Regions from separate parts of the Homo sapiens genome. Here region 1 is reported to be linked to region 2. The links are microRNA targets in miRTarBase. Many come from high-throughput screens and were not tested one by one. Region 2 holds a microRNA gene; the other region holds the end of a gene's coding sequence.

Region 1 (7,003 bases), not on the chromosome of region 2:
CCAGCTGGATGGTATGTACCGTGACTGGGCTCTGCCAAAAAATAGTAGGAACTCACTCCCTGTTCCTAATAGCTGCCAGGAGTACAGACCAGAGGTTGCAATCTAAGGTCTGCCTTCCAAGGCCCCTGCAGGCCAAAAGAGAGGTGAACTGCTCTAGGTTGATGCCCTATACATTGGCTTCTTCTCCAGAAACAAGTCATCGATGGGCACAGCCAGACACTGCCCCACTACCTGTCCCGGCAAACATTCGCTTCTCCATCTGGATCTCATTCTTTGAGATCTACAACGAACTGCTTTATGACCTATTAGAACCGCCTAGCCAACAGCGCAAGAGGCAGACTTTGCGGCTATGCGAGGATCAAAATGGCAATCCCTATGTGAAAGGTAAAGGAACATGGGGAAAGCTGGCATGAACCCTGGAGGGCAACTGGGGAGAGACTGGCAAAAGAGTTGGATGTTCCCATCTTACACCCCTCTCCTTTGGCCCCAGATCTCAACTGGATTCATGTGCAAGATGCTGAGGAGGCCTGGAAGCTCCTAAAAGTGGGTCGTAAGAACCAGAGCTTTGCCAGCACCCACCTCAACCAGAACTCCAGCCGCAGGTGAGTAGATTGTAAGAATAAACTCTTCACTGTGTTCCAGGAAACATTAGTCCTCTGCCTGGTCATGGAAAATGTGCAATGACTTTTTGTTTTTCTTAACTTCCAGTCACAGCATCTTCTCAATCAGGATCCTACACCTTCAGGGGGAAGGAGATATAGTCCCCAAGATCAGCGAGTAAGTTTATCCATTTAGAAATTTGGGCTTCTTGGCCATAAATGATAGTTGGGAAAGCATGGAGGAGGTCCTCAGGGGAACTATGTGTTCTCCTTCTTTGGGTACAGAGATTCTTAGTGGGCCGTCCCCTCTCCAGAATTATACAAAGGGCCAGAAGGCTCATAACATGTGAGGCCCTTATGTCAGATCCTGTGCATCATTCTAGGCTGTCACTCTGTGATCTGGCTGGCTCAGAGCGCTGCAAAGATCAGAAGAGTGGTGAACGGTTGAAGGAAGCAGGAAACATTAACACCTCTCTACACACCCTGGGCCGCTGTATTGCTGCCCTTCGTCAAAACCAGCAGAACCGGTGAGCTTTTGACTATAATTCCTGGGCTCTGCAATTTGCTAAGAGACTTCCTGGACACCACTGGGGATGGTGCTAGGATACCCAAAGGGCTGGTGTTCTGCTCACAGCTCTATTATCTCTGATTCTCTGCCAGGTCAAAGCAGAACCTGGTTCCCTTCCGTGACAGCAAGTTGACTCGAGTGTTCCAAGGTTTCTTCACAGGCCGAGGCCGTTCCTGCATGATTGTCAATGTGAATCCCTGTGCATCTACCTATGATGAAACTCTTCATGTGGCCAAGTTCTCAGCCATTGCTAGCCAGGTGAGAAGCTAGAGGTGTGATGGGTGTGCGCACTTGGAACTGGTAACTCTAAGAAAGCTCCTAGGGACTACTTATGGAGTCAAGTAAGATATTTTTTTTCCCTCTAGCTTGTGCATGCCCCACCTATGCAACTGGGATTCCCATCCCTGCACTCGTTCATCAAGGAACATAGTCTTCAGGTATCCCCCAGCTTAGAGAAAGGGGCTAAGGCAGACACAGGCCTTGATGATGATATTGAAAATGAAGCTGACATCTCCATGTATGGCAAAGAGGTGAGAATACAAGAAAGCTTTAGTGTAGCAGCTTAGTAGCTACACATTTTTCCATGGTGCCTTCCAGGTGGGCTTGTGCCTTCTGAGGGCATGAGCATCTGATGACCTCTGACATGTGTGTCTCTCCTAGGAGCTCCTACAAGTTGTGGAAGCCATGAAGACACTGCTTTTGAAGGAACGACAGGAAAAGCTACAGCTGGAGATGCATCTCCGAGATGAAATTTGCAATGAGATGGTAGAACAGATGCAACAGCGGGAACAGTGGTGCAGGTACTAGCTGAGTGACCCCTCTTGCTCTGTCACCTGAGACAGAGGGTGGGAAGTAAGGAGTTAGGTGGAGTTGTGCCTCAAGATCTGTTCCCCAAGTTCACTCCTCAGAACCTTCACTTACCTCTCTTTTCTCCTCTGTTTCTGACAGTGAACATTTGGACACCCAAAAGGAACTATTGGAGGAAATGTATGAAGAAAAACTAAATATCCTCAAGGAGTCACTGACAAGTTTTTACCAAGAAGAGATTCAGGTGAGTTGCCCTGAGCCAGCTCCAATTAGCTGCTCAGATTTCCATCACTAGCTTGCCTGAAGTAAAGAGATTTTATAAACTACTCCAGTAAGGGCAGGAATATATAACTCCCTTTTCTCTATTCCCCATAGTGCTTTGGGTTCAATCTATGTTTGGTGAATTGATTAAGGGTTTAGTTGGCCAGGAAATCGTATTAAGTGCTAACAACAGGTTTTCAAGGGATCAGTGTCACAAGTGCTTTGTTTGTTCAGTCATCTGTCTTAGCAATATTTTTCTGGCTCTGCAAAGAATTGTGCTCTCTGCTTCCCTCTTAGGAGCGGGATGAAAAGATTGAAGAGCTAGAAGCTCTCTTGCAGGAAGCCAGACAACAGTCAGTGGCCCATCAGCAATCAGGGTCTGAATTGGCCCTACGGCGGTCACAAAGGTTGGCAGCTTCTGCCTCCACCCAGCAGCTTCAGGAGGTTAAAGCTAAATTACAGCAGTGCAAAGCAGAGCTAAACTCTACCACTGAAGGTGAGGAAAGAGACAGGCAGGAAACATAACAGTGGTTCAGGGAAGAGCTGTTACTTAAACCCAGGCCTTCTAACTCCTGCTCTAACATAATTTCCTAAACTGCAAGCTACATCCCCCTGACATTTCAATCTAGGATACACATAGCCTCACTTTTTATATTTGCTGCAAGCTACTGTTACCTCAGTTAAAGAGGTTAGTCCAAGGCTAAAAAAACCCCACATATTTTAAGTTTCCTGTTTCCTTCCCTCAGAGTTGCATAAGTATCAGAAAATGTTAGAACCACCACCCTCAGCCAAGCCCTTCACCATTGATGTGGACAAGAAGTTAGAAGAGGGCCAGAAGGTAATTACCACCATTCTCTGTTTACCAAACTCTTACCTAAGGCAATTTCCCACATCCAACACTCTATCACTGGTTCATGTGAAGACAAGATGTTTTTTGTGCACAGTTCTGGAGAGTGGCTATTTCACTCAGCTGACTAGCCTTTCTAATTTTACTTCTCTTCAAATGGCTACCTGACCCCTCCAGATCATTATCCTGGTTGCTCTTGGCCACAATATGATTCCTACTTCCCCTTTTTCAGAATATAAGGCTGTTGCGGACAGAGCTTCAGAAACTTGGTGAGTCTCTCCAATCAGCAGAGAGAGCTTGTTGCCACAGCACTGGGGCAGGAAAACTTCGTCAAGCCTTGACCACTTGTGATGACATCTTAATCAAACAGGTTAGGGCAAACTATATACCCACTTCTGTCCTACCAGCCCACTCCAGTGTATATGTGAGAAAGGAAAGAGGACCAGAAGAAAAAGGTAAAGATTTTTAGGCTGAATTTATAGTGAGAGCAGTATATTTGCAAAATAAAAATAACTATTCTTTGTTAAGCATTTACTAAGTACCAGGCACTGTGCTAAGTAATTTATAGGCATTTTCTGTCACAACCACCTTAGGGAGGTAGTTACTGTCATATTTCATCTAAGATGCTACTGATTATAAGAAACCATTATTTTATGTACTACTAAGAAAAAAGTAACAATTTCTCATCAGTAAGATGCATCCTGATTCCAAAGAGATTAAAATGTTAAAATTGTGTATCTTAAACTAAACTCAACATTTAATTTGACATTTAGAGACTGAGGCACTTAGAAATTAAATTTACTCAAGCTCATACTACCTTATGTGTTAGAAGATGTCCTATTCAGCACTGCTTATGTTTTGTTCTCAGAAAATGTCCCCTTATTCAGTTATAAGCTCCGACCTTAAAGAGTTTTAATCTTTGAAGAAACAGTTGTTAGTAACTAGTAATGGATGGTATGTATTACCCTTAGCCCTCTCGTTTCTCTAATATACCAGACAAAAGTGTTTTCTATAACTTTATTGATCTTCCTTAGGACCAGACTCTGGCTGAACTGCAGAACAACATGGTGCTAGTGAAACTGGACCTTCGGAAGAAGGCAGCATGTATTGCTGAGCAGTATCATACTGTGTTGAAACTCCAAGGCCAGGTTTCTGCCAAAAAGCGCCTTGGTACCAACCAGGAAAATCAGCAACCAAACCAACAACCACCAGGGAAGAAACCATTCCTTCGAAATTTACTTCCCCGAACACCAACCTGCCAAAGCTCAACAGACTGCAGCCCTTATGCCCGGATCCTACGCTCACGGCGTTCCCCTTTACTCAAATCTGGGCCTTTTGGCAAAAAGTACTAAGGCTGTGGGGAAAGAGAAGAGCAGTCATGGCCCTGAGGTGGGTCAGCTACTCTCCTGAAGAAATAGGTCTCTTTTATGCTTTACCATATATCAGGAATTATATCCAGGATGCAATACTCAGACACTAGCTTTTTTCTCACTTTTGTATTATAACCACCTATGTAATCTCATGTTGTTGTTTTTTTTTATTTACTTATATGATTTCTATGCACACAAAAACAGTTATATTAAAGATATTATTGTTCACATTTTTTATTGAATTCCAAATGTAGCAAAATCATTAAAACAAATTATAAAAGGGACAGAAAAATTAAGAATCAAACATCATTCTGGACCATGGGAACCTTGAAAAGGCATGGCAGTGGAGACCAGTAACTAGTATACAGCTTGCCTGAGAAGGCTTAGTAACAAATGAATTCAAGTCGTATTAGATATTCTAAACCTTCCTTAATATAAGATGAAGTGTCATATGTTAGGAGGTAAAAACGTAACACAAAATTCTGGGAATAAGAATAAAGTCTGGACCCTGAGCTCAGAATGATCCATAGCATCTACTGTGCAAATATATTACAGCAGACATTATAGCATATTACCTCCTGCTGTACACACATGCACAGGCCTGAAACTCTCCAAGAGCACCATAAGAATGATTCCCTTTACCTCATCTAGATAAAGGCTGAAAAAAATGTATTCTGTTGCAGATGGGAGGGAAAAAAATAGACAATTACGTTGAAAATTTATTAAAACAGACCAGCTTGAAGTGAGTTTATTCTTGTCTGTATAATCACCAATGTTATTTCCAAATGTCCGTGAAATTATCTATAATCCTATCTCCTTGCTTGCTTTGGTAGGAGTATAGCTAACAATATAGCCATCTTTTGCCCTCAGTAAGGGCTATCAGCAGTTCCAAGCTCTGTGAGATTATTTTTGCCCTTCTTTTATTCAACTCTAGTTGAATAAAGTTACTTCCAATTTGAAAGCTTTAGAAGACCCCCCCAAAACTGTTTTGGAAGATTGTCTCCCTAGAGAGTAAGAACAAATGGATAGCTCTATTCCATTTAAACCTAATCTCTGACATCAGAATAGGGATCATGCTCAGCAAATCCAAGAGCAAGGTCATTTGTATCCATTGCTCTGACTTCTTCCTAGGGTACTCAGTGCCCTACTGCCAGCTCAGGGTAGAGTGGCAGACTTTCCTCCTTTCTTTCACTCTCAGCAGCATTGAAACTTTGTTCCTGTAGCATTGCCTGTGCTAAAGTGCTATAAAAGGGACTTTCTTGGGGGCCAAAAAAAAAAAGCATTCAGGGAAGAAGGCCAAGATCTATAGCCACTCTTTGGACATAAGTGAGACAGAAGTACTTCTAACTGGCAAGATAATGTCTGTTCCTGCCAGGATTCTGTCAGTTGGCCTCTGAAGGTAATTATACAAGCTGTCCCTATGGAGCTGTTGCCATCTGTAGAAACAAGAAGAGCTGAGGTCCTTGGAACAGACGTGCTGTTCTTTACATGGAGGTAAGGCTTAATTAAGATGGGTCTAACAATGTGCTGGCTTGAGAGTAGCCAACTATGGCGTGACAGAAGACAAGTTGAGTGGAGAAACTCTGCGTGTGGGGGTATTGTTAGCAGAGAGTGAAGCAGGTAGGAAAAAGGGAGCAGGCACCTCGGTGGTAGGAGTCTCGCCTTGGTTCCGAAGCTGTAGGATTTGCCGGAGTAAGGCCTTACCTTCTTCCCGGGTCTGCAACAAAGTCAGGGAAATGTTTCAAAACATGTCCAAAGCTAGTCTCGAAAACAAGTTATTAAGATGCTGTTAAACAAGTTCCACAGATCAAGGAGGCGGGAGGCTTGCTTGTTTTTTTTTTTTGAGATGGAGTCTCACTGTGTCACCCAGGCTACAGTGCAGTGGTGTGATCAAGGCTCACTGCAGCCTCGACCTCACTGCAGAGGATCAAGTGATCCTCTCACCTCAGCCTCCTGAGTAGCTGGGACCACAGGCATGCACCACCAAACCTGGCAAAATTTAATTTTTGTAGAGACAAGCTCTCCCTTTTTTGTCCAGGCTGGTCTTGAACTCCTGGACACAAGCGATCCTCCTGCCTCAGCCTCCCAAAGTGTTGGGATTATAGGTGTGAGCCGCTTGCCTGGCCAAGGTAGGCTTTCCACTTAAATATCTTATGTTCTAGCCTAAAATTCAAACCTTTTATTAAAGAACTGATACTCACATCATTAAATGCACAACACTTTTGTGCACAAGTTGAAGCTTCATCCCACAGTTTGCACTTAAAATAGTACTGGGCCAGATAGCGAAAGGCAGTGCTTTCCTCCAAGTGTTCTACTATTTCCTAGAAAGGGAAAGCAAAATTACTGAGGTGACAGTAATAATATCAGCAGTACAATTCTCATGGTATGATACATACCCCACAGGAATAGATATCTTGGATATATTTGATGTAACACTGGGCAGCCTGTTCTGACTCAGTCAACTGTTCATGAAGCCTACAAAAGAAACTGATCTTTAAATACCAATGATATCCCAAAGCAACTTAGTGATAAAAAAAGTAAAAGTACATAA
Region 2 (7,586 bases):
TGTGCGGCTGGTTCCCATCTGCTGTGTGTGCGGCTGGTTCCTATCTGCCTTTATCTGCTGTATTCTGTTCTGGCCCGTTTCCCCACCTCTGCCCCTTTCTGGGTTTTCTTATAATCCAGATGAAATGTCCGCAGCAATAACTGAGAGCCGGTTATGAACCCTCTGGGCAGAGTCGCCTAGGGGCCCTGAATGCTTTTCTTTGGGCTTAATGCAAACAGAAGGGACACAGGATCCTCTGCTGGGTGATGCTTAGCAGCCGGATTATGACTCAGCAGCATTGCAAACACAGGGAAAGACTCAGCATCTCCCGAGGCATTTTATGGCTCTTCCCTCCCAACACAATGTTCCTATTGATACGCTGAGATCATATAAGGGCCAGGCTGCTCTAATAAACAATCGCCTACCTTGCAGAGCACCTCCCAACTTTCCCGTATATCACCCTTTACATTTTTTCCAGGACTCAGTCCCATGCGTTTCTGCGGCACGTGACTTCCCCTATGTCATAGGTGACTGCCGTCCTGGACTTCCTTTCCACATGGTTTCTCTGCTCTGCCCTAATCTGGCCTCATCTCAGGCCAGACCAGCGCCATTTCCTGGCCCTGGCTCCTGGCTGCCTCCAGGCTGCTGAGCTCACCATGCTGGGAGGATGGAGGGCCCTGAGGCCACCAGGGGCTCAGCTGACACTTACCAACAGCCGTCCACCCCACCTCCCACTGCATCCTTCCTAGAGCAGCTGGAGCATCCAATGATAGGGGCCCAGCCTCCTAGGTCAACACAGGCACTGCCTGAAGCAGCCCCCAAGGTGGTCAGGGTGCCTCACGGGGTGGGCTCTGCCAGGCCAAGGGGCAGCTCCCTGATGCTCTGCCGAGGGCCACTTTCTTTCTTTCTTTTTTTTTTTTGAAATGAAATCTTGCCCTGTTGTCCAGGCTGGAGTGCAATGGTGTGATCTCGGCTCACTGCAACCTCCACCTCCTGGGTTCAAATGATTCTCCTGCCTCAGCTTCCCGAGTAGCTGGGATTACAGGCATGCACCACCATGCCCGGCTAATTTTTGTATTTTTAGTAAAGACAGGGTTTCACCATGTTGGTCAGGCTGGTCTCAAACTCCTGGACCTCAGGTGATCCGCCCGCCTCGGCCTCCCAAAGTGCTGGGATTCCAGGCATGAGCATGTGTTGTTTCTTTAGCTGGATGCATGAATGTGCCATTGGGAGCTGCTGTCCATCCTCAGGGACAAACGTGAGGGGAAAGGCATACATGTAGACATATGTACAATCTCTTCTCATTTTAAAAAAGTCACAGCACTTGCAAAAGAATCACTTCTCATCTGTGGCAGGACAAGATTTTTGACATTTGCTTCTGATCCTGTCCTGGGCCTGAGTGCGAGGAGCTCCTCAGACAGAGCCACCTCCCTCACCTGTCCTCAGGCCACGTGGAGGTGAACTTCCAGGCACAAGCACCCCACACCTGGCTGGGGCTGCTCTTCTGGAGTGGCAGGGCCATGCTGAGAAGGACTGACAGGTGACAGTCAAGGCAGCCCTGCCATCACCTTCCTGCACATTCCGGGGTGCAACTCAGCCTCTGTGGTCTGGACTGACATACTTCTTGGGATGCACTTTGGCTCTTCGCAGGATAAATGCATTTGTTTCTTAATAAATACATCTTTAAAGCTGGTCAACATTCGTTTTATCCTGCTACTTAATCTAAGGAGTCTAAGAAGCTGACAAAGGAAAAGGAAAATTTCACCATGGGGGTTGGGGGAAGGCACCATGATTGTAGGGTCTGGGCTTTTTTTTTTTTTTTTTTTTTTTTTTTGAGACGGAGTCTTACTCTGTCGTCCAGGCTGGAGTGCAGTGGTGCGATCTCGGCTCACTGCAACCTCTGCTTCCCAGTTCAAGCGATTCTCCTGCCTCAGCCTCCCAAGTAGCTGGGACTACAAGCACGTGCCACCACGCCCAGCTAATTTTTGTATTTTTAGTAGAGACGGGGTTTCTCCATGTTGGCCAGGATGATCTTGATCTCTTGACCTCGTTGTCCGCCCGCCTTGGCCTCCCAAAGTGCTGGGATTACAGGCGTGAGCCACTGCGCCAGGCAGGTCTAGACTTTTATTCTCTAGCCTCCGAGAAAGTAATTTTACAGCAAGACAGTTGCTGGAAGTCACTGGCACAGAGCTTGAGTGGCCATTATCCTTAAAACACCTGAAAGCCGGGCTAAGTAAACAGTGCCATCATTCAGTCTACCACTGACCCAGACCTCTGCCCCAAGGGCTTCCTGGGCTAAGTAACAGTGCCATCATTCAGTCTACCACTGACCCCAGACCTCTGCCCCAAGGGCTTCCTGCCCATCCACCAATTCTTCTTCTGGGTATGAGACCTCACCTGAAAGAGCAAGAGAACAGAGCTCGGGGAAGTTGAGGGGACAAACGTTCCCCACCAAAGCCACATAGAGAACCACTCTTTCTCCCTTTCTCCTACTTGTTCATCAACAAGTACTCTAACCACCTAGGCCAGGTGCAGAAGCACAGCACAGATGCCCTGCACTCCTGGCACTCTGTGCACACTCCTGCATGCCCTGCATTCCCTGCACTCCTTGCACACTCCCTGCAGCCCTGCACTTCCTGAATACCTTGCACACTGTGCACACTCCCTGCAGCCCTGCATTCCCCGTATACCCAGCAGGCCCTGCACGCTCTCTGTGCCCTGCACACTGCGCTTGTCTCTGAGGCAGTGAGAGGCAGCCACATGACAACACAGTGGGGTCTCCGCCCCGTGGAGGGACTGTGGCTTCTGTGAGCCTGGCAGAAGGGCGTGACCCGCACTTTGGGGTCAGGCAGGAGGAAGGGATGCTTCAGTGAGACCTGAATTGGGGCTGAAGTCAGCCTGACAAGAGATGGCCACTTGTGATTTAGAATATTACAGCATTCTAGATGAGGTATACCATATACATATGAGGTATATATATATCTCTCATCTAGAATGCCGAAATATTCTAGATGACGTTGCCAGTGAGGGAGGAAGAGGAAGATGGAACAACTTGTACTTCTCCCTCCTTCCATCCTCTTCTTCCTCACACTGAACTCCCAGGCTTAAAATAAGAGCTGGCTTCAGTGACTGACACCAAGGGGAGGGCACCTCTGGGTTGGACCCTGAGGGGTCTTTGTGCTCAGTAGAATCTTGGGGGGCCAGCTAGGCAACGCTGCTTGATGTAATGAGGTCCCTCAGGGTCGGCTGCCTACCTACTGTGAAAACAGTTATTTCTGGGGAGAGAGGGCTGTCCCCAGTGGAGAGCCTCAGAAATGAACTCAGCATTTGCAGGAAGTAAAAAGAAGTGGCCTATACCGGAAGCGTAGGTTTGGCCTGGCTGAACCGCAGGGGAGGATCCAGTCTGGACTGGGGGCATGAGATAGCTCTAGCCCACTCCTCAGAGGTCTCTCATTTTGAGTCCCCATTTCAGGGGGATGCTGAGAGCCTGAGAACCCCTGGTCTAGCTGACAAGCTCCTCTTCAGCCACAGAAAGAGGGGAGGAGGCCCAGGTAGGGGAGGTAGGTCCCTGGGTCCCCAGGCAGGTTGGCAGTGGAACTGGAGGAGTCCAGAGGCTTGGCCCCTCCCCCAGTAATGCAGCCACCTTTGACCCCGTGCTTCTTAAAGATAGCTGGGACTGCCCCCACCCTTCCCTAGCCCAGGTCTTGAAGTCCTTCCCATCCTTCCCACAGTTCCGATTTCGGCTTCTAGCCCATCCCACCCAAGGAAGCTCAGCACACTTGTCTGCGCCCCCTTTCTCTTACATCCTCCTCCTGTCTGCCACTCCCCATTGATTTCTCTTCCTGCCTCTTTCTCTCTCCGATTTTCTCCACCAGTGGGTGCAGGTTCTGCTCAGTCTTCCTGCCTGTCCTCTCCGGGGGCCCCCAGAACTAAGCTGAGCCTGCTCCAGCCCCATATTTTACCGCAGGAGGTTGGCTTCCTTCATGGCCAGGAGGAAGTGGTGAGGGGCAGCTGGCATGCCTGGTGGTCAGGGACAGGCAGGGTCTGAGACCCAGGCCAGGCCCCTCTCCCTGAGCAGGTTTCTCCAGATCCAAAAGAAAGAGCTGGCGAGATTGGAAAGGTCCTTTCTAGACCCTAAAGAACCCCTAATAACCCACAGGGCCAGTCTGTGCTCACGTGGCACAGTGGAAGAGAGGACACTATTTTTTTTTTTCTTCTGCTCGGGGGTCCAGTTTTTTCTTTTCTTTTTTTTTTTTTAGTTTTTTGATTTTTTTTTTTTTTTTGAGACAGGGTCTCACTATGTTGCCCAGGCTAGTTTCAAACTCCTGGGCTCAAGCAATCCTCCTGCCTCAGCCTCCCAAAGTGTTGGGATTACAGGCGTGCGCCACCACGCCCCAGCCTGGAGGCCCAGTTTCTGTTTCAGGAAGTGACCTCTGAGCCAAACCATTTACTCACCTCCTTCTCCATCTTTCTGCCCTACAGCCCACTTCCTCCAAATGCAAAAAGCTGACAGGACACTGTCCCTAAGTCACCCCATCACCCAGCCCTGGACAAGTCCGCCTGGCAGTTTTGAAAACTAGTCCCATGGGCATGCTTCTGAGTGCTGTGTCCTTCCCGTCTGACTGATGGCTCTCAGGCAGCACAGCCCTCCGAGGTGGTCAGGAGTGGCGGCTGCACTCCGCTGGGAATCTTGACACTGCTCCTTAGCCTCCCCTGTCAGAGGCTGGGCCTCAGAGGAGCCTTCCAGGTCTCCTGGGTGCTCTGCATCCGGCGTGGGGCGCCCACTCCCAGAGCTCCGAGAGTCAGGTTCGAGGCCTTGTGATATCCCCCTTACCTGGTGGTCACTCCATTGCCTGGGTCCTGGGGCGCCTCCCTTGGCTGGCGGGGGGTCCCCGTGGGGGCTGGGCGAGGCTCTTCCTGGCGTCCTCTTGGGAGCCACTCTCCTGGCTTGGCGATGATGGCTGCTGGGGAGGAGGAGAGAAAGTTCAGTCCACATCTGCTCTGGAGCCCCTCTAAGGATGCCCTCTCGTGGGCTGGGTTGGAAAGCCAAGAAAAGCACGCACCCCAGGCCAGGCCCTGCGGGCTCCCTGGCGCCTGTGGCTTGGGATACTTGTTTACTCGTGCAGCCCGGGAACTTGCCAGGTAGCGGGGGATGGCAGGCACACTGCTGGTGGTGACAGGCACAGCCCAGGGAGGTTCAGATCACCCTGGCCGCTCAGCCTTCCTGGCACCCCTCAGCCTCTGGAAAGCCCTCAGAACAACAAATTGTCTCCCTGGGCCATGGCTAGGCGCCCCCAGACAGAATGTGGAGGCCCATTTGCTTATCTGAAACTCAAATGTAACTGGGTGGTGTGTAGTTTTATTTGCTAAAACCAACAACCTGAGAGGTAGGGTGCTCCTCACCGAGCAGCCCAAGGCTCCTTAATGCTGAACCACTCGGTACACCCAGGGTGGCCAGGAAGTGCCCTAACTCCCAGTGACTTGTGCTGTAGCTGATGCCCACCCAGAACCAGGCCACCCGGGACACGCAGGAGCCCTTCACGGGGAAGCAGACGGAGAATCCCAGATAGCATCATAGCATACGGAGGGCTCCCCAAGGGCCTGGGAACAGATGTTCCTGCATCTCAGATGCCACGCACCCCTTCCCCCACCCCGCCTCTCCTCTTCTCCTACAGCTGAAGGGGTCCATGTCACTGCTGCAGCGACACTGTGACAGAGGCTGCATCCGTGACTCCCTTAGGCCAAGCTCCTCTCAGCTCTTTCATTTTAGCAGCTCCTCTGTGGCTTTGCAATGTGATCTGTTTAATCTTAAATATAAAGGGATCTTCCCTGCAGGTTTCCCTGTAGCAAGGGGCTTTGACTTCCAGATAATTCTCTTTTGACCCAAACGAGAATCTATTTCTGATACCAGAACCCAGCGGGTGGCACTGGGCGGTCTCCACCTGGATCTGGGTCTAGAAATAGAGCTTCAGGACAGGAGGCACATGCTCAGTGTGCTTAGAATAAGGCCAGGAGAAAAAGCGTAGGTGTACAAGAGAATACTTGAGTGAAGTCACACCGAATTGCTGGGCTACACGCAGGGGAACCCCATTACAACGTGTGGAGTCACAAAGCTGTGCCCACGCCAGGCAAGTCCTCTAGGACCAGGACCAGGAGCTTCCCAGGGGGTGTGAGCGTAGGGGACGGGGTGGTCATAAAAAAGGAGGAACTGAGCTGGAGTGTCCCAAGACCATGAGGTGGTCTTGGTTCAACTGTCCCCTTCTCCTCTCCTACTTCCTCCAGCACAGGCCACACTGAAGACTTTCAGAGGTCCCACCAAGAACAAGAGACCAGCTGAGCACGGTGGCTCACGCCTGTAATCCCACCACTTTGGGAGGCTGGGGCAGGCAGATCACTTGAGGCCAGGAGTTTGAGACCAGCCTGGCCAACATGGTAAAACCCTGTCTCTACTAAAAATACAAAAATTAGCCGGGTATGGTAACACATGCCTGTAATCCCAGCTACTCAGGAGGCTGAGGCAGGGGAATCACTTGAACCCCGGGAGGCGGAGTTTGCAGTGAGCCAAGATCGCACCACTGCACTCCAGCCTGGGTGAGAGAGCGAGACTCCATCTCAAAAAAAAAAAAAAAAAAAAACAGGAGACCCCCCTAACTAAGACAGCCAGGAGCTAGGAGATGGGGCAGCCATGGGTGTGCACCGGGGTCTTCCTGGGACAGTAGTATCTCTTGCCTGCTGGTCCATTTCAGACAGGGCTGGGCATTTTAACTCCCAGGGCTATGAAGTCCCAAGGCATGTGATTTTGATATTGAAGATAGTCCTGGTTGGTGGGGAAATGAGAATAGCTTTCCTTAGGCCAACGTTCTGCAAAATGCTAAGCCATATTATTGGCCTTTTCCCTTGGGAACTATTTCCTGTTGGCATTTGGGGCTGTCTTTTGCCTAGAATGTACTTTCTGGGCCTGCACTCAACCGATCAAGCAGTTTGAGGGTCCAACAGGTTCCTCCTCATGAGTTTTCCCTGCGGTGCTGACTGAACGCAAAGCGCAAAGGCTCTTCCTCAAGAAACTCAGCGTGAAGGTGGGGGTTTCCACGGGGTCTCTGGGTGGGGCGTTAGTTCCCAGCACAGGCCAGACTCAGCAGCGAGCTGTGTGCAAGGAGACCTGTGGGGAGCGCTGCCTGGGGCCAGGATGGGCCTGGGGCAAGGTGAGTGAGAGAAGGGAAGTGGAGGGGGCCCCATGCCTGTAATCCCAGCACTTTGGGAGGCCGAGGCGGGAGGATCGCTTGAGCCCAAGGGTTCAAGACCAGCCTGGGCAGCACAGAGAGACACCTCTCTCTACAATCAATCAATCAATCAATCAATCAATCAATTGAAGTGGAGGGGAGGGATGGAGAAGCAGGACTGTCTGGAGGAAGTCAGAGCAAGCTCCTGAGCAGGGAAGGAATGAAGCAGAAGGCAACATGGCTCAGGGGTGCCCATGCCCAGCCCAGCACTGCCCACTCCCTGCTGTCCCTGCTGCTCATCCCCCTCCCCCTCATTCATACCCTGGCTTAATGGACTTAACCGCAGTCCCCCTATCTGCAAAGCCCAGATGGAGCACAGAAGCAGAG

Evidence for each region. Region 2 holds the annotated microRNA hsa-miR-4777-5p (UUCUAGAUGAGAGAUAUAUAUA, at 2,953-2,974, opposite strand). A microRNA usually pairs through its seed, bases 2 to 8, with sites in the 3' UTR of a target mRNA and lowers its output. Matches are read on the target gene's strand: a 7mer-m8 pairs with bases 2 to 8, a 7mer-A1 pairs with bases 2 to 7 and ends in A, and an 8mer does both.
Region 1: the mRNA of CDC23 is a reported target of hsa-miR-4777-5p. Seed matches in the 3' UTR shown: 7mer-m8 at 5,099-5,105.

What each region holds. Positions count from the first base shown.
Region 1 is chr5:138,182,980-138,189,982 of GRCh38, forward strand. CDC23 (cell division cycle 23) reads right to left here. Exons shown (of 16, transcript NM_004661.4): 14 at 6,849-6,927; 15 at 6,654-6,773; 16 at 4,671-6,169. The coding sequence ends at 5,999. KIF20A (kinesin family member 20A) reads left to right here. Exons shown (of 19, transcript NM_005733.3): 7 at 1-11; 8 at 190-384; 9 at 491-602; 10 at 709-777; 11 at 983-1,126; 12 at 1,260-1,425; 13 at 1,533-1,697; 14 at 1,828-1,967; 15 at 2,116-2,218; 16 at 2,533-2,731; 17 at 2,982-3,073; 18 at 3,315-3,452; 19 at 4,117-4,744. The coding sequence ends at 4,434. Among named protein-coding and RNA genes, the nearest start is that of KIF20A, 7.4 kb to the left of the region's middle.
Region 2 is chr2:231,358,111-231,365,696 of GRCh38, reverse strand. MIR4777 (microRNA 4777) reads right to left here and starts at 2,989; the gene lies at 2,904-2,989. ARMC9 (armadillo repeat containing 9) reads right to left here. Exons shown (of 25, transcript NM_001352754.2): 23 at 4,814-4,943. RefSeq lists an enhancer at 4,385-5,028 and a silencer at 4,906-5,200.